Linked DNA regions of Homo sapiens. The protein of the gene in region 4 purifies or fractionates together with the protein of the main gene of each other region. This does not show direct contact. Each region holds a gene or a part of one and is shown on either strand. Other genes may lie near its edges. The genes, in order: PKLR, MMADHC, ANKRD50 and CIMAP1A.

Region 1 (3,737 bases), on a different chromosome or scaffold from region 4:
GCCAGGCTGGAGTGCAGGGGTACGATCTCGGCTCACTGCAATCTCTGCCTCCTGGGTTCAAGTGATTCTCCCACCTCAGCCTCCTGAGTAGCTGGGACTACAGGCATGCGCCACCACGCCTGGATAATTTTTGTATTTTTAGTAGAGACAGGGTTTCACCATGTTGGCCAGGATGGTCTCAATGTCTTGACCACGTGATCCGCCCGCCTCGGACTCCCAGAGTGCTGGGATTACAGGCGTCAGCCACCGTGCTGGCATCTCTTACACCTTTAATATACTGCAGTGGTCACATTCCCTGCATGCCACCCGTGGGACATACTTCACTGCCTCATTCCCTACAGGATGGCCTTGATGTGGTGAAAGGTGGTGGCTGGTTCTCGTTACAGGGCTGGCCTGGTCCCTCAATGACTAATTTTCTTTCTTTTCTTCTTTTATTATTATTATTATTATTATTATTATTATTATTATTATTATTATTATTATTTTGAGATGGAGTCTTGCTCTGTCCCCAGGCTGGAGTGCAGTGGTGTGATCTCGGCTCACTGCAACCTCTACCTCCTGAGTTCAAGCGATTCTCCTGCCTCAGCCTCCCTAGTAGCTGGGATTACAGGCATGCGCCACCACACCCAGCTAATTTTTGTATTTTCAGTAGAGACAAGGTTTCACCATGTTGGCCAGGCTGGTCTCAAACTCCTGACCTCAGGTGATCCTCCTGCCTTGGCTTCCCAAAGTGATGGGATTACAGGTGTGAGCCACCACACCTGTCCAATGATTTGTTTTCTTTCCCTCCCCCAGGAAAGCTCCGTGGCTTCCTCCGTGTTGGAGACCTGGTGATTGTGGTGACAGGCTGGCGACCTGGCTCCGGCTACACCAACATCATGCGGGTGCTAAGCATATCCTGAGACGCCCCTCCCTCCTCTGGCCCAGCCTACCCTTGTACCCCATCCCTTCCTCCCCAGTCTACGTTCTCCAGCCCACACCCCTCCAAAGCCCCACCTTTAAGTCCTCTCTTCTCTATTCCTGACCCTCCCTACCTGAGGCCTATCTGAGACTATAACTGTCATCTAGCCCCTTCGAGGTTGCCCCTTCCCCATCTCCATTTCACACAGGTCCTGAAAGTCTGTGTCCAATTATGCACTGGCCACCCAACAGCACCAATTGTACATTCCCTGCATCCAATCTGCTCAGCAGGCCCTAAGATGCCTTGAGTCTTTAATCCCAGTTTGGCTGGTTAATTCCATAACCCCAGGCATCCCATCCCTTGGGGTGGGGGAGAGGGGAGACAGGGCAATCTTGTCCACAGTCTCCCATTCTCATATGTAGCCCTCATGATAATCTGGGCATCTCGTGCCAGGGCAGGCTACCCCTTCATGGTGACTAACAGTTACATGAAAGTCCACGCTTTTGGGAAAACTGGGTGGGATGGATGCTGGGGAGAAGTGAGGGCTGGGCAGCTGATTTTGTCACTGTCTTCACAACCTCCGTGCTGGGCTTGTAGACCACTGTCCTGGCTGCTCTCATGCCTGCCTGATACCCTGCTTGGTCAAATCCCCGGCTGCTTCCTTCTGCACCCAGAAATTCCTTCCCACTCATGTTGTTCCCACACACAAACCAAGAGCCAAAAATGAGTGTGTCTATTTTATATTTAAACCCAGCTGTTTGGAAGCAATTATAAAACTTCTCCCACACACCAAGAACCCCAGAACTCCCCACCCAGAAGGAAAGGAGACTTAGGGTCCTGGTCCCACAGTCTTTAATGCTGTAGAGTAGGAGAGGGGACAGGCAGAGTGAGGGTGGTAAAGGACTACTCTTGTCCCTGAGAAGGCAGAGGTGCTGGCTGGCCTGCCCTTCCCCAGGCTTGGATACCTTGGGCCTTTCCCTTATTCCTGCACCAACAGCAAACTCAGAAGGAAAAAACAAAACAAAACTCTAAAGGTAAACGCGGTCCTTCTCCCTCTCTCATGTGGCTCCTCCTGCCCCTACCTGGGAGAAGGTTCAAGTATTGCGCTGATGGGTTTGGGCAAGGACCACAGAGGCTGGCATGGAGAGGCCCTGCCTCCTCCTACTCCTCCTGTCTCCTTACCTGAAAAGGAGGGGAGGGATGGATAAAGGAATGGGTAAACAAAATTAATTGGTAACACATAAAGTTAGTAAATGAATAAATACAATTAAATAAATGAATAAATAAACAAGCGAAGAAAAAAATATCACACAAGGATTCAGCCATTTGCCCCTCCACCGGGGGGGATCTAGGCTGGCATATTAATAAGGAGGTGCCAACTACCCCTTAACTTTTAGGGGGTCACGACTGGGGCAGAGGGTACAGGGAAGAGGAAGCTCGCAGTTTACAAAAAGATGGTCTACCACAGGACAGAGACTGCAGGGAACTTAGAAGTATGTTCCCACTCAGAGGGTAGACACAGAGTGTCCACAGGTGGCAGTGAGCGGGTAAAAGTGGATACCCACACTCAGGACCCAAGACATCTGCTGACAGCAATGGGGGCACAGGTGACTGGCAGTGCCTGGCTATGCTACAGGAACAGGAAGATAACCAGACCGGGCAGAACCTGCAGGATCATTGGCAGGGAAACAGAGACATCTAGTTACTTGGCAGTGATGGCAGTGGCAAGTACTTGTGCTTAGTAAAGGTGGGGTCATGGGCCTGGGCCTGCACCTGGCAGGACCATAGCCAAGGGAATATCCTTGTCAGAGGGTTTTGAGTCACTTCTACTTGGCAGTGGAGACATACAGCGCCTGGCATATTACCTTGAACATGGTAGCTGCTCAGTACACATGATGAACGGGTGAATGGATTATGATGGGACAAGCTACAGGATTCTTGAGCTGAGGACACAGAGACCGTCTTCATGGCAGTATGCGGAATGTCCGCACAGGGTCGACATTTCCATGGGGCAATGTTTCAGGTCCCCATGGCCTTCCCCAAGAGGCATCTGCCCTTGGGTACATACTACTGCACCCCAAGAACTAAGGCTGGATGTACTCAAAGGTTTTACATGTTGGCAGAAAGCTGGAGACCCCGGGGTGTGGCTGGCTCAGGCACTGGTGGCCTGGGGGGCTGGGCTGTCCTTGGAGGTTTGGCCAGGAGCCCTGAGGGAGGCAGCCGCTCACTTCCTGATCCCTTACGCCCAGGAGAGCCATCGCCTGTTGCCCGCTGAGGCAGAGAGGGTTGGGAGGCTGAGAGTGGGCGGCCCCGAGGTCCTAGCCGCCGTCCACCTCCTCCTGGAGGGGGACCCAGCAGGGAGACCTGGGAGCGCCCTGCCCGGGATAGGCTGGCGTGCAGGGTTCGGGCAGGTGGGGCGGGCAGGCGGGAGGTGGATGCCCATGGGCCAGCTCGGACGGGCACCAGCGGGGAAGCTGGAGAGCCTGCTGAGCGCCAAGCAGAGCGAGCAAGGAGGGTGGCTGGAGAGTCAGGGGAGAGGGGCAGAGGGCCCCGCTGATGAGTCAGGGCAATGGCCACATTGGAGGTCACAGCAGCTGCCTGAAGGGGCGCATGTACCAGTGGCTCCCACAGTACTGGCTTTCCACTAAGCTGAGCTCCTGTGCTCGGGGCCCGACCCCGAACACCCCGAGCCATGTCTCTGTCATGTTGCACCAAGTGCTGCTCCATGATGCCACCACTGCTGCCTGGACTTGGCTCGGAGCGCTTCCGCTGCAGTATGGAATTCTTCTTGCCTAGAAGTTGTACCGGGAGGGAGAAGTTAAGGATAGGGAAGGAA
Region 2 (4,591 bases), on a different chromosome or scaffold from region 4:
CTGGAAAAAATTAGAACAGATTTAAACCATAAAATATCAAATATTTACTTGGAGAGCTAGGTGTGGTTCCAAAATAATCATGAAGAAATCTTTAAAAAAAAAAATCTTTTTTCACAGAAAATAAAATAGCTTCAGTCATTACAAAATTAAAACTCTCAAGATGAAGCACGTTGCCATTCAAACTGGTTATAGGAAACTTAGAACTATACTGGAGTCAGTATCAAATTAGGTTCAGAATCTTAAACTGACCAAAAATTAGAACCACTAATGCAATATACATGTGACAATATACTAGCACTTCAATGATAGTGATGAGTATATATTTACTAAGCATTATTTTAATATGTAAATAGAAAATATCCTATAACTCTCTATAACTCCCTTGTTAATTAGTATATAACTAATATGCTTGTGATTGTTAAAAACCACACGAAATCTATTAGCAGTTATGTGACATTTAAATGTGAAATTATAATATTGTTGAATATGTAAATTACAATATACTTTTACAAATAAAGACCATACATCTAATCCCAAATATAAAATACTTCCTAACATCCTACACAGGAATCACTAAAGGGATTTTTTAACTCAAGTTAGTGACTTGGGCCCCTTAGCTAACCTGAGTTGGAAAGAACTGCTAACACCCAGGGTAAGCTAGCATGACAGCTTATATACTAGAACAGTCTTTTTGATGGGCAAATTGGAAGTGTCTTATCAAAATTTAAAATGTAGATACACACTGATTCAGCAATTCTCTATTTAGGAATCTATAGATATTAGCATGCATAAAAGTATTTGTAAAAAGACTGTCACTGCTTGTTGCCTATAATAGCAAAAGTTGGATTTTAAACTTATAAATGACTAAGAAACTTCTTTTATAAGAGATGGTAGGTATCACTTTGTCGCTCAGGCTGAAGGGCAGTAGCACCATCAAGGCTCACTACAGCCTCGACCTCTCAGGCTCCAGTGATCCGCCACCTCAGCCTCCAGAGTAGCTGGGACTACAGGTGCGCACCACTAAACCTGGATAATTTTTTTTGTAGAGACAGGGTCTCACTACAGTGCCCAGGTTGGTCTCAAACTCCTGGATTCAAGCAATCCTCCAGCCTCAGCCTCCCAAAGTGTTAGAATTACAGGCGTGAGCCACTGCACCCAGTTAAAATTCTTAAATAAATTAAAAAGTTTATGGTTTACCCTGTGATATTAATACTATGCAGATTTTATAAAGAATGAAATATATCTATGTGTAAGCATGGAAACATGTCAAAGCATACTTTAGGTTAAAAGCAAACCACAGAAAAAAATGTGGGTATACATTATTACACTATTATTGTACTGCATACTGTTACTGTTTACTCTTGGAGAGAACTGGCATAATTTTCACTCTTTATTTTGACATGTTCTAAGCCCAGGAGAAAGGGGATAGATTTGGAGGGGAAGATGGGGAGATGAAGGGGGAGATGGAGAAGGAGAGGGAGGGGGAGGCTGAGGGGAGAAGGATAAAGAGTTAATTTTACCTTTTTGTCATTTACCAAATTTTCCAAAATAGACTTTTTAAAAATAAATTGAGGAAAGTAATAAACAGAATCTAAACTTTTAAGGATACTAAAAAGCTGCACTTTTACTCTCAAAAAAGATGTAAGTCCTTTAGTATTATAATACTTTGGCAGAAAATGAATAAAGGGTGGAAATGACAGTCATCATTTTAAGACATTGGTTCACTATTACTTAAATAATGACCATAAAATTAAATTATTAGCAATTGAAAGAATTACCTTTTCTAAGAGCACTTCTCTTTCAATTTCTACTTCTTCACTCCAAACAGTCATATCATTCTTAGTTTTTTGTGTTACAGTCAGAATCATTAGTTTGCCATTAGCTACTTCTGGAAACAGTGATTCAAAATCTACAAATAAGAATAAACATTCCAGGTAGAAAAGAATTTGATTTTTAAAGAACAAATTTTTAAAGAAGGATAAAAGTACTTCTTTAGAAAAATGCTGATTAAGTAAAATTACTGTGGTATTAGTTAATTTTTATAAATGTATGTTATTTTTGAAAAGGGTAAAATTCACTTAGTTTTGTTTACTTCTGCTTTTGTTGGATGAACTGAAATATTACTACCAACAATCCTGAAGGGTAAGTAGGATTACACGTTATTTGGGGTTAATATAATTTTCAAAAATGCTTACTGTTAAGATTTTTCCGTATTATATTAACTCATAAAATTATAACTCTAATAATCACCCAGGAGTAAAAATGACTTTAATTTAGCCTTAGGAAAAAAGTTATTAAAAATTTTACTCTTCCTATCTAATGGCAGCATGAGGTCAGATGTCACAGGACATTTCAAAGCCTTTATCTTGGCCATGCAATCATTTCCAGCCAGATACGGTAAAATATAATATTAAGGTATACAGCGTTCCAATTTCTATAGAGTACATTATTCAACATATTAAAAAAATTAGTAACAGTGTTTCAAAGTATAAAGCATGACATACCTTTTCGCAGCAATTCTGGACATGTCTGTATTGCACACTCTACTCTGGCACTTTCAAAGTAAGTTTCTGCACTGTTAATTTCTTGTTCAACAGGTGCATCATTACCCTAAGGGGAACAAGGATATAAGTCAACAAAATCTGGAGTTCAAATAAAACGGTATCTTGCCTGTTATAAACCTGTCTTCCTTAGAAAGCTTTTTGTTTGTTTTTACAAAAAATTATAATCTAACTGGGAGGTGAGGTAATAACATTTTCTCATTTACTCAAACTTTTCTCTACAATGAATATAAGATTTGGAAGTTCAAAAAATGTGAATACAGCAGAGCATGAATATATAAATATACTGATATTCTAAAACTTGGTATAAACAGAAATTGGCTAAGTAACTAAAATGCCATAATGTGTCTCATAATGTTACCTCTTCTATTTTATGGTAATATTTAATTATCTTTTCTTCTATAATCTGTAAAAGGGGGATAATGATACTAACTTACAAGATACATGACTAAATAATACAGCCTCTCCTACAGGAAGAGCTTAGAGGCTTTTATTCAACTGAAATTTACTGAGAGCCTACTATACATCAGGCACTATGACAGGAGCAGGCGCTGCAATGGTAAAAAATTCAGTCCTCACTCTCAGCTATTTCAGGCCTAATAAAAAAAAATAAGTACAAGCAAATAAATGCAATTAAATATGACAAGTGCTACAGAGTTATGAATAAAGTCTTCCAGGGGCATAGATGAGGAAGAAACTTACTTTGCTGGGAGGAATCAGGAAATGATTGAAATGGTGATATTTGAGCTACAAGTTAGTTGATGTGTTATGTCTGACAGGTAAAAAATAGCTGGTACAGAGGTTAGGAATTCAGGAGGAAAAATAGTCCAGCAAAAGATAATAAAGTACAAAGACACAGAATGTGTATTCAAGAAAAATGGCAAGTATGTTGTGGCTGGAGTGCAGAGGGAATAGGAAGTAGTGGCAGATAAGGTGGGAAAGGTAAGGGATCAAAATTATGAAATGCCATTTATTCAGCATTAAGAAATTTGGACTTTAGTCTACAGGCAATGAGAAACAGCAATATCAAATACAAAAATTAGCCAGGAATGGTGGCATATGCCTGTAATCCCTGCTCGTTGGGAGGCTGAGGCACGAGAATTGCTTGAATCCAGGAGGCAGAGGTTGCAGTGAGCCAAGATTTGCAGAGCAAAACTCTGTCTCAAAAAAAAAGAAAGAAAAAAAAATATTGTGGGCTAGAGATTATTACTATCCTCATGTGACATTTATAAAGAAACAGGAGTGGTCAGGCACACTGGCTCACGCCTGTAATCCCAGAACTTTGGGAGGCCAAGGCGGCCAGATCACAAGGTCAGGTGATCGAGACCATCCTAGCCAACATGGTGAAACCCCACCTCTACTAAAAATACAAAAATCAGCTGGGTGTGGTGGTGCACGCCTGTAATCTCAGCTACTCGGGAGGCTGAGGCAGGAGAATCACTTAAACTAGGGAGTTGCAGGTTGCAGTGAGCCAAGATCGCACCACTGCACTCTAGCCTGGTGACAGAGCAAGACTTCATCTCAAAACAAACAAACCAAACAACAACAACAACAACAAAGAAACAGGAGCTTAGAAAGGTTAAGTAATTTCCTCGAGGTCACAAAATTAAGTAAGTTGCAGAGTCAATCTTTGAACCCAGATTTATTCTATCTTCATTGTGTGTCATGCTACAATGACTCTAAAAATCCAGGTAAGACAAAGAGGCCTTGAACTCTGGCAAAGAATTGAAAGGACACTAATATTTTAGGAGCAACTTGAGAGATAAAAGCGATGTGATTTTTATATTATTTATAGTGATATGATGGAGAAAGAAGGTTGGTGCTATAAGTTTTATCTTACGAGAGAGGGGAGGATGGTTATTCCACTAATAGTATTGGTTATACAGGAGTTAGGACAGGTTTTTAAGGAAAAAAAGATTACTTCAGTATTAGACACACAAAATCTGGGGACTTGTGAGACATCCAAACAAAGATGGTTCAGTAGGCATATAGAAATATAGAACTGGAAATGTCAGAAATAGAAATACTGA
Region 3 (5,276 bases), on a different chromosome or scaffold from region 4:
ATGTAACATCAATTCTATCAGGATATACCATTATCAGTGTTCACACATATAGAACAATAATGAGTAAAAAATATAGGCACACAGGGGTCTTCTAAACATTACAAATATATTCTTCTAAGAATACAGCCCTCAGAACTTAGCTAAATTTTGCCAGTGTGGTAATAATGGTGTGAATTTAAGAGTAGAAATGTAAACATGCAGTAAATTTCAAATAATTTTATTTTAAAATTGGCTAATTATAATTTTACTATAACAGCAAGACTGGTAAGCAGAGGCTATATCTTGAAAATAAGATTAGCACAAATATTTGCACAATAAATGAATTTTTCACAGAAATTCTACAACATAATCCTCAGGGTGTATCTCATCACTGCTACATTCAGCCCTTCCTATCTGTGGATTCTGCATCTACAGATTCTCCCAATCACAGATGGAAAATACAATATTGGAGAGATGCAGAATCTGTAAATACAGGAGGCCAACTGTGGGACTTGAGCATACAAAGATTTTAGTACCCACCTGGGTTCCTGGAACCAATCCACCCAGGATACAGTGGGACGACTGTAGTTGTAATCCTTCCAACTGCTAGGGCAAAGGAGTGAAAACATTAATTATCACCAAGTTCTCACAGTGTATTTCCTTGGACCATTAGCTAGAAAACTCCATGTAAGTTTATTTAGCTACCGGTCTGTTTTTAAATTCTTCTATGTATACCATACATTTGTGTTTAAACACATTGTTATATTATTAATTTTTTAGAATAAGATTTATATTAATTCAACAAATTTATAAAAAATATAACTGCAGAACACTACAATTTTCATGAAATTACAGAACAGAAGATACCTTGTTGGCCTTTTTAGAAACCTCTCTTTGGAGTAATAGGATAGTTATTCATTAGTAAACATAGGGAGATTGTTTCCAGGACTCCTCTTGGATACCAAAATCCTCAGACACTCCTGTCCCTTATATGAAATGGCACAACATTTATATATAACCTACGCATATGCTCTGTATACTTTAAATCATCTCTAGATTACTTACAATACCTAATACAATGCCTACACATCACTTCATTCAGGTGGACTCAGGTAGTACTTGGCACATAGCAAATTTGTTTTTCAGAACTTTAGAATTTTCTTTCCGAATATTTTATCTGAGATTGGTTGCATCCAGGGATGTGGAACCCACAAATTCAAAAAGCCATTTGTGTGTATGTATACATACAGCATGTGTATGCTGTGTTCTGGTGGGGAAAGAGGTCATGAAGAAGTGACGCAAGTTTACTGAGTGAAGAAACACACAAATTTTATTTAGAAAATGAATGACCATGTTTGCAATAAACTCCCAAAATATCCGCCATAAGATGGCCATAATATTCTGATGATCAAGGAGCACACATATACAAAAGTTATTGGATTACTGCAATTCTCAGAGGCACAAAACCTGACATGGTGTGATATAGTATATAATCAGTCACGGGGGGGAAAAGAACATTAAGTCTTTAAAAAGGCTTAGGAAGACATAAACAGTAAATCTTTGTTTTTCTACCTTCCTTTGGACAGTGTTATATTTCACTTTCTTCTTTGCAAAATGTTTCCAAATTCATTTGCTCAGGATTTATTTAAGATAATAACTTAAAACAACTAACAGTTGTTTATGCTATATGCATATCATGCATGTTCTACTGGTTCAAGGACAAAATTAAAACAAGATCTTCTCTGTAAAGCAAATATATTTATTATGCACTTTCATATACACAGGGATTTTTTGAGTAATATCATACAAGGGATAAAATAAAACTTTTACAATGTGAAATTCAATGTACATTTTTGGCTATTTACATACCTCAAACCAAGGGAAAAATAAAAAGAAAGCATTTGTTTGCAACTACATTTGCTGAGAAGTGTAAATGGAGGACATTAAGCAAAACAAATATTTGCATAGCCAAAACAATATTGAGAAAAGTATTTACTTCTGTTTTTTAAGTATCAAACTATTTTTGGTGAGAATTCCAGTGAGGGTGGGGGTGAAAACAAAGAACAAAAATTATTGGCTGTACTTTGCAGTACGCACTGATTTCAGGTCATTTTTCCTTCCAAAACCTTTCTTAGAAACATTCAGATTTTTATTTCATTACTGTATTTTTATCACTTTCCTTATTATAAACTCATGATATTTAGGGAATAGACACAGACGGAATGTTATAAAAATGTTATAAGCACATGCCATCATAGTTGTGTAGTGGCAACAGCTGATTTATAAAATTTAAAGATTTTAATTTCAAAAATATCTATTAAGGAGTTTTATATTTGGAGGACAATTTTTACTTTTTAATGGAGCAGAAGCCATTTTCATTTATAGTATTAAATCCCCCACAGAAACAAATAAGCAAGGCAGGGCATCTCCAGCACCCATCCTATCATCCTTATCCTAACTCAAAGTCATTTATGTTCTATTCCAAAACATAATTTATATAAAAACATCCCGAGGAATACTTACTTTTGAAAATCGTATTTTTCCAATAGGTTCTCTTCCTACCAATTGCTTCAAGTGTATATAGTATGGATATGAAAACAGTTAGCTCTTTGAAAAACATAAATCCCTTATGCAATGTCATATCTTCGCCCTTTGGACACAAGGTGCAATTTTGTAAAAACAATAAAATTAAATAAATACAATTTCAATAATTCAAAGTTAATAGAAAAACTGGCAGCTTTCAGGGTTCTCTTTCTAAAGAAAATTACATGTAATAGAAATTAGAGCTTCATCCTCTACAGTAATGTAAATGTACTGTATTTGAGATATGAGTAAAGTTGGTTCTAATAATAGTATGTGTTCATATTTATTAATAGACTCATTAACACTTTTAAGGCTACTTTGCAAGAGTCCCATTAATTTTATTTAATAAATGTCCCATAGGGACAAGAATTCAATACTTGAAACATTCACATTTGAGTTATTAATATTGCCATGTCACCTTAATATCAATTGAACTTATCAACTTATCTCGTAGTCCTCACTATGACTTATAGATGACAGACAAAATGAGTTTTGCTGACTTTAAAAAATAAAAGCAAGAAAAGCCTTACAATAAGATTCAAGTGAAACATTTATCATAATTATACATTTCTATTTCCACGAACAATGTATCACATGTGTCCTTCATATATGAAGATGACATTACTGACCTTTGTTATTAGGACATATTCTAAAGATTTTGTTCTAGAAGTAGCAATGGTTTTGTGCTGAATCTCCAAATTCTCTTTCCTCATTCCTCATCAACAGTACATGAAAAGAACAGAATTTCTGGGTTCTATAAGATTAACAGGCCCATTCTAAGATCAAATCCACAACCTTGGCTTCTAAACTGTTATGACAACTTTTCCAGACATATAAACGACCCATCTAAGCTACAGCTCCACTGATTTAAGAGTAAGGAGACTAAGGCTGTGGGACACATGCTCATTTGAACCAATTTTACCTTCCTTGTCATGAATTTCTCTCTTAACCCTGGCATCCAGCCCTCCTGCATGCAATTGTACAAAGAAGAAAACAGGAAAGAGTATGAGGATAGAAAAGTGCAAATCCATCACTATTAAGTAACAATAAAAAGTACACATGTGCTATGATTGACAGGGGAGTGGTGTCATCTGTGAAGGGCAGCACATTTTATATTCATCCAGAATATTCATCCAACCAAACCATTAAAATTAATCCAATTGATTTTGAGTGGGGCTATTTTGGTCATGCAGCAATTTACAAAATAGAAACCGCTGAGAGAGAAGCCAGCAAAATTAATTTATTTAGCCAGGAGGAAGAGGTCAGTTTAGTCAATGAATTATTCAGGGATCAAAAATCTACCCTTAGATAGACAGGTGCATTTCTCTCTGCACACACATGTGACTGAGGCATGGCTTTGTCCCTGAGAATTTTCATGCCTCAGGAATGATAGTCTGTCTTCTTAGAGGTGGAATGACAAAGTGAATGGAAGATGAAATTGTATCCCAGCGGATGAAATAGGACTTTGTTCTGCCTACAGACTGGTTGGTTGTTTGTTCTGACATGTTTAGCCAGAGATGAGAAGAATTCTACTGGGAAAATCCAGATTTAAACTACTTAAAGCAGCTCCCTAAACTACTATAAAATATTTTTTTTAAACTGCCAAGAAATCATTTTTTCATTTCAATGTGATATTTATATAGAAAATGATTTTTATCCAATGCTGAAGGTGTAGTGAACATAGAACAGTTGCAAGATTTGTTTTATTGAGCAACGTCTTTAAAGATACAAGAAACAGGCCATACACTACAATGCAATGTGACTGAAACAGTATGTTTAAGTTTCTTTTGCCACAAAAAGAAAAAAAAATAAATACAAGGAACACTGCCTTTTCATATATATTTGATTATGGCACATGCACATTTTTTATCACATCTTAACTTAAAATACTCAAATTTTCTTTTCAGCTTTTATCAGGGAACTGCAGTATGTATCTGCATTTTTAAAAAGTGCTTATTCCTGTGTAGTGAATACAAAGCACACAAAATGAAATTTTTTAAGCACAGAGGGTTACATTGAGAAGGCAGCCTTACTATTTAGGCACATTACAGTAATTAAGGTAACTGTACTGCAGAGATCACATTCTTCATTTTTTTTGTTTTTTCAGCAAATCAACAGGCATATGTTTCCATCCAGTAGCTGAAGAACCACTCCATCACAATGTCTTCTGTTTCACAGAATAGGAAACTAATGCAAAAGTTAAAAAAAAATTATTTTCTACATTGTATTATACAGCTACATATCATTTTAAAACTTTATTTAATACATTTACCTCTATATATCTTTATCTATATATTTACCATGCAAAGCACAAAGCAGACTTAACTATTATTTAACTTATAAGCCACTTTTTAAATTCCACAAAATGTTTACCTTAATTCTGGTGTTTCATTTTTAATACGTATTTATATTTTGCCTTTAAAACAGATATCATGAGAGTTGAAAGGGTGCACCATCAGAACTAATTATTTTAAAAACGAATTGCATTTGGGGACTGAATTAAGTACTTTATTCAAATTATTTTTGAATGACATTTGGTCACCCCTAGATTCACATTGAAGGCTGTTTATTATTAGAATATATGAGGAATTTATCTATAATAGTGTTTCACCTATTATATCCCTAAAATATATTTACAAAGACAGAAGCAGCAAAAAGGAAAGAGTATATATAACTTTGTTAGAGGAAGAAAAATCATTAAGCAAAGTGGGATA
Region 4 (5,021 bases):
CTGGGCCCTCCCATCTCACCAAGCTGACCCTGGGCCCTAGAAGGCAGGATGGGACCCCTTGTGGGCAAGTGCTGACAGCCTACGGGGGCTCCTTTCTGGAAATGCTTGATCCTTCCACCAAGACAAACCCTTATTAATGCAATCTGATTTATTAATAATTTGGGCACAGCAGAAAACAAGATTAAAAAATGGTAAAATAGCATAGAAAAAAAGTAACTGATTACAATTGCCCAAACAAGCGTGCTCTGCCCTGCAGGGCCAGGCTGGCCCAGCCCAGCTGGTGAAGACAGCCTCGAGCTCTGTGGCCCGGCGGATCTTGTGTAGATGCCGGGTGTGATGGGGCACAGCAGGGCTGGCGTTATTCCACATCAACCAGCAGGGGAGTCATGTAATCAGAGTGTTTGATGCCGAAGGTGACAACTGGGGCGCAGGGCTTGGTCAGGGTCACCTGGGAGAGGAGGGGCTATGATAGGAACCAGCACCCCTGCCCCCACCTGCAGGTCTCTGCCCTGGCTGGGGCTGGGCTGCTGTCCTTCCTGAACCTGGGGCCAAGGTGGCCAGAAGCTATGCTCCCAGGTTTGAACACAGAGCACTCAGCAGTAGTAGCTGTCACAGTGTCTAGGGAAAAGGGCAGGGTCTCTGCTTCCATGTCCCTGAAGGGTTACCTGTGGGCCTAGTGCTGGAAATGTACAGGGTCCTCAGGGTGCAGGTGCCTCCCATCCCCACCCCACCCCTCCACCCCTTCTTGGCTGTGTCCTTCCATAGCCTGACCCTGTTTCCCCTCGTCTGTGTCCCAGCCCCCCTCCCTGCTCTTTCCTACACATCCCTCTGGGCCAGGACCCTGCCCCACCCTGACCCCTCTGAGCTGTGCTCTTCCTGGACCTTCTCAGGGCTGTGGGCGCCTGGTCCTGGCTTGAGGGTCTTGTCCCCTGGGGGCTCCACACGGGCAGCCATGGTGTACTGCGGAGCCTTGAACTTGGTCACCCGCACATCAGTTTGGCGGTAGGCTGCGGGACCTGGGGTCTGAGAGGTAAAGGAGGCTCAGACCAACTCGGCCTACCCAGGGCGTGTGGCCCTAGAGGACAGGGAGCAAACTCAGGCTCTGAGTCAACAGGGTCAGCTACAAGTTGGTGCCCGTGCATCAAGGTCCCCTTCTGTCTTCTGTCACACTGTGGAGATCACACCCCACTGCTTGTGGGGTACCTCATGTGGGGGTCACTTCCTCCATTTCAGCCTCACGCTGGCAATGGCATCCCCAGTGTGTGCCAGTCCTGGGAACATCGCTGAGCGTGTGTGAGAGAGGCTGTTGCTGCCCTGTTGGACCTGAGGGCCTGGGGCTGGCAAAATCAACATGGACGAGGGCTGTTGGGTGCCATGATGCTGCTTCCCCATCTCAGGCCCCTCAAGCTCTCAGGCATGTGCCACCCAGGGGCTTTGCACTGGCTGTTTCTGAAACCAGGACCCTCCTCCCCCAAATAGCTCATGGTTTATTTTTTCCTCCTCCTCTTCTTTCCATGCTACCCTATCTAAGATTGCCTCTCTCTCTCCAGACAGTGCTTCCTAAACCCCATCTCTTGTCCTCAGCACGGTCCATGCTGGGGCCAGGGCGTCTCCCTTCTGGCCTGTTGCCTGCCCCTCCTCACCACTGCAGTGTAACCCCAGCACGTGGCAGGTGCCCAGAGGGTGAAGGGCTGAGGGGGCTGAGGGGCATTGGCAAGGCAGGGCCGAACTGGTGGGTCCTGGGTTCCGGGGGAGGGTTCAGATGGTTGGGGGTGATTCTCTGTTCTCAGTTGGGGTGGCCCTTGCCTTGTGTAGGTCGTCGCTGAAGCCGCCCAGCTTGCTGCGGCCCTTGATGGAAAAGGAGGGCTGGGAGGCCTTGCCGACGGTATTGGGCCCCATTACCATGGGCAGCATGTACGCAGCGGGGCCTGCAGGGTGGACGTGGAGCCTCAGGCCGGAACAGGGCCCACTGCTCCTTCCCTGGGGCTCTCCCCCAACTCTGGAGATCAGCCGTCGGGCTGCCCCATGTCACACACCCCACCCAGGATCCCCAGGTCCATTTGGCTGAGGATGGTTGGGGCTGCTGCGGACCTGGGGTGCTGTCCACTCGGAATGCCTTTGTCCGGGCAGAGATGGAGTGGCTGGGTGCTGAGTCGAACACGTACTTGGTGGATTTCTCTGGAAAGTAGTCACCTGGACAAGGAGCCAAGGGGGCTGCTGGGACAAGCAGGTGGGTATGCAGCCCAGTTTGGGGGCTCAAGGAGGACTCCCCAACATTCTAGGCGTGGGGCCTCTGGGCTCCAACACAGGTGGTGACCAAGTCGGGTCAGGGGGTGTCCAGGATGGAAATGCTGACTTCAGGGCTGGTGAGACAAAGGCTATTTTTGAGCAGGGAGAGTGGGGTCTGACGTCGGCCTGGCAGAGAAAGGTCCAGGTCGGAGCTGGACTCTTGGGCCAGAGTCTTCTCTGCCCAGGCACGATGGTGACCCCTCAAGAGAGAAAGATGGGACGGGAGGGGCCAGGATGGCTGAGCTCTCCCACACCCTTGCTGACATGAGGTTAGGGGCACCCAGCAGGGAGGGGCAGGCCTGAGGCTGCGCAGGGCAGGAGCCTGAGACAGGGTCACTAACCTGGACCAGGAGTCAGCATGGTCTTGGTTTGGTAGCGCCCCAGGATGGAGTAGGCAGGGCCAAGGTCCTTGCCAGTCCTCAGTATCTTGGGGTTTACATTGTAACGGGGCCCTGGGGAGCAGTTCTCTGCCAGGAGCATGGGGGCCCCACGGAAGCTGTAGGCCGGTGCACGCAGCTTGGTGGGCGTGTGCTTCATGAAGCCTGTGGACGCAATGGGCCCTGAGCAGCCCGGAGCCTGACCTGCCCTTCTCCCCGCTGGGAGTCAGGGATTGAGCCCCAGGCCCTTCCCGGGACCCCCACCTGCCCGCCTGGCTCCTGACCCTCTCCCACAGTCTCTCAGGCTCTTACCTGTTGTTGGTGGAATCAGGTACTTGGGTCCAGGGCTGCTGTAGAGGGCCATGATGGGTCCCCGGGGGCGATGGGGCCTCCAGGTACCCATCCATACCTCCTCCGTCATGGCCAGCTCTGTCCGTAAGTGAGAGGGTTACCAGGTGCTGGGAGGCCCGGCCCTGTCCCATGCCGGCCCCTGATGTCCCCGACCCTGCTCTTGCTGACACTGAAGGGTAAGACCTGCGGAACCTGCTGCAGCATCAGTGGGGATCTCCAGCTGGGAGCCAGGAGTCAGGGACAGTAGGAGCTTTCTGCATGGGTCTGTGAGCTCCTCACCAGCTTAACTGTAACCCAGAGTTGCTGTCCATGCTGGCCCTTAACTCACCACTGTTCTCGGCTCTAAGGGAGCCCTGGGCCGGTTTCTCCTACTTGGAGTGGTCAAAGATGGGGAACTTCTTGATTGAGGCTGAGCTGAGGGGCAGGGAGGGGGCCGCCTGGGAGGGAACTATAACTTCTTCAGTGCAGGGACAGCACTCAGAGCAGCCTAGAGACCCATCCTCATCAGAGACTGTCCTTTCCCCCCTGGCCTTGGTGCCAGGGAGTTCCCGCAAAAGGAGCATGGAGAGAAAGGCCTTCCTCTCTCCTCATGGGCTTACAGAATTGGGGAGAGGTCCCCCACTCTAAACTCTAGAATGTGGCTCTGTGGGATGACAGGTTCTAGATTCTGTCTATGTGACCAAGACAATGGCTTCTGCCTTTGATCCCCTCACCAGATCTCACCACCAGGTCCCCCCAACAGGACACCCCTATAAGTCCCCCTGACCATGTTCCCCTCACCATGTTCCCCTCACCAGGTCCTCCTCACCAGGTCCCCTCACCAAGGCTCCCCACCCATGTCCTCCTCACCAGGTCCCCTCACCAGGTCCCCTCACCAAGGTCCCCCCCATGTCCCCTCACCAGGTCCCCTCACCAAGGTCCCCCCCATGTCCCCTCACCAGGTCCCCTCACCAAGGTCCCCCCCATGTCCCCTCACCAGGTCCCCTCACCAAGGTCCCCCCCATGTCCCCTCACCAGGTCCTCCTCACCAAGGTCCCCCCCATGTCCCCTCACCAGGTCCCCTCACCAAGGTCCCCCCCATGTCCTCCTCACCAGGTCCCCTCACCAAGGTCCCCCTCATGTCCCCTCACCAGGTCCCCTCACCAAGGTCCCCCCCATGTCCCCTCACCAGGTCCTCCTCACCAAGGTCCCCCCCATGTCCCCTCACCAGGTCCCCTCACCAAGGTCCCCCCCTATGTCCCCTCACCAGGTCCCCTCACCAGGTCCCCTCACCAAGGTCCCCCCCATGTCCCCTCACCAGGTCCCCTCACCAAGGTCCCCCCCATGTCCTCCTCACCAGGTCCCCTCACCAAGGTCCCCCCCATGTCCCCTCACCAGGTCCGCTCACCAAGGTCCCCCTATGTCCCCTCACCAGGTCCCCTCACCAAGGTCCCCCCCATGTCCCCTCACCAGGTCCTCCTCACCAGGTTTCCCTAAGTTCCCTCACCAGACCACCCCTCACCAGGCCCCCTCACCATGTTTCTTTCACCAGGTCCCCTCAACCAGGCACCCACCCATGAAGTCCCCCTCACTGGGTCCCCTCACCAGGTCCCCTGTAACCAAGTCCTCCAGGGCCCCCTCCCTAGGGCTCCCTCAGCCAAATGGAAATCCAGGCAGATACCATGTAGGCAGGTGGGACAGAGCACAGAGCCGACAGCACCGCATGGCCCCCTTGCCAGGCTCAGACAGGACAGAGGTGTGGAGAGGAGGGCCGGGGCAGTGAAGTGTCAGGGCTCAGCACCCAGGGTGGCCAAGGATGGGGCGGTTCCACTCAGCTGTGCCCCCAGAAGAGACCATAGATTGGGCAGCTGAAATGCTGGAAGGTTCTGGCTGTGGGAGAGTCTGGGATCCAGGGTCAGGATCAGGGTCTGTGCTGGTTGTGGTGGGTGTGAGTCAGTGTGGGCGCTGGGGCTGCCCTGGCTGACCTCAGAGGCTGCTCACCTGCGGCTCCCAACCCCCTTGGAC

Evidence for each region.
Region 1: the proteins of CIMAP1A (region 4) and PKLR purify together in Homo sapiens (affinity purification with mass spectrometry; one large-scale study listed by BioGRID and IntAct). This does not show direct contact.
Region 2: the proteins of CIMAP1A (region 4) and MMADHC purify together in Homo sapiens (affinity purification with mass spectrometry; one large-scale study listed by BioGRID and IntAct). This does not show direct contact.
Region 3: the proteins of CIMAP1A (region 4) and ANKRD50 purify together in Homo sapiens (affinity purification with mass spectrometry; one large-scale study listed by BioGRID and IntAct). This does not show direct contact.

The regions. Positions count from the first base shown.
Region 1 is NC_000001.11:155,287,737-155,291,473, reverse strand, and holds the end of PKLR (pyruvate kinase PKLR), read left to right. Parts: intron 1-795; coding exon 796-902; 3' UTR 903-2,181; downstream 2,182-3,737. Other genes in the region: HCN3 (potassium/sodium hyperpolarization-activated cyclic nucleotide-gated channel 3), read right to left, coding at 3,011-3,693. UniProt on the Homo sapiens protein: Pyruvate kinase that catalyzes the conversion of phosphoenolpyruvate to pyruvate with the synthesis of ATP, and which plays a key role in glycolysis.
Region 2 is NC_000002.12:149,573,933-149,578,523, forward strand, and holds part of MMADHC (cobalamin trafficking protein CblD), read right to left. Parts: intron 2,611-4,591; coding exon 2,505-2,610; intron 1,910-2,504; coding exon 1,779-1,909; intron 1-1,778. UniProt on the Homo sapiens protein: Involved in cobalamin metabolism and trafficking. Plays a role in regulating the biosynthesis and the proportion of two coenzymes, methylcob(III)alamin (MeCbl) and 5'-deoxyadenosylcobalamin (AdoCbl). Promotes oxidation of cob(II)alamin bound to MMACHC.
Region 3 is NC_000004.12:124,662,766-124,668,041, forward strand, and holds the end of ANKRD50 (ankyrin repeat domain-containing protein 50), read right to left. Parts: intron 4,750-5,276; 3' UTR 1,283-4,749; downstream 1-1,282.
Region 4 is NC_000011.10:195,371-200,391, reverse strand, and holds CIMAP1A (ciliary microtubule associated protein 1A), read right to left. Parts: upstream 3,632-5,021; 5' UTR 3,346-3,631; intron 3,096-3,345; 5' UTR 3,088-3,095; coding exon 2,979-3,087; intron 2,832-2,978; coding exon 2,631-2,831; intron 2,194-2,630; coding exon 2,092-2,193; intron 1,929-2,091; coding exon 1,807-1,928; intron 1,024-1,806; coding exon 883-1,023; intron 449-882; coding exon 359-448; 3' UTR 134-358; downstream 1-133. UniProt on the Homo sapiens protein: Outer dense fibers are filamentous structures located on the outside of the axoneme in the midpiece and principal piece of the mammalian sperm tail. May help to maintain the passive elastic structures and elastic recoil of the sperm tail.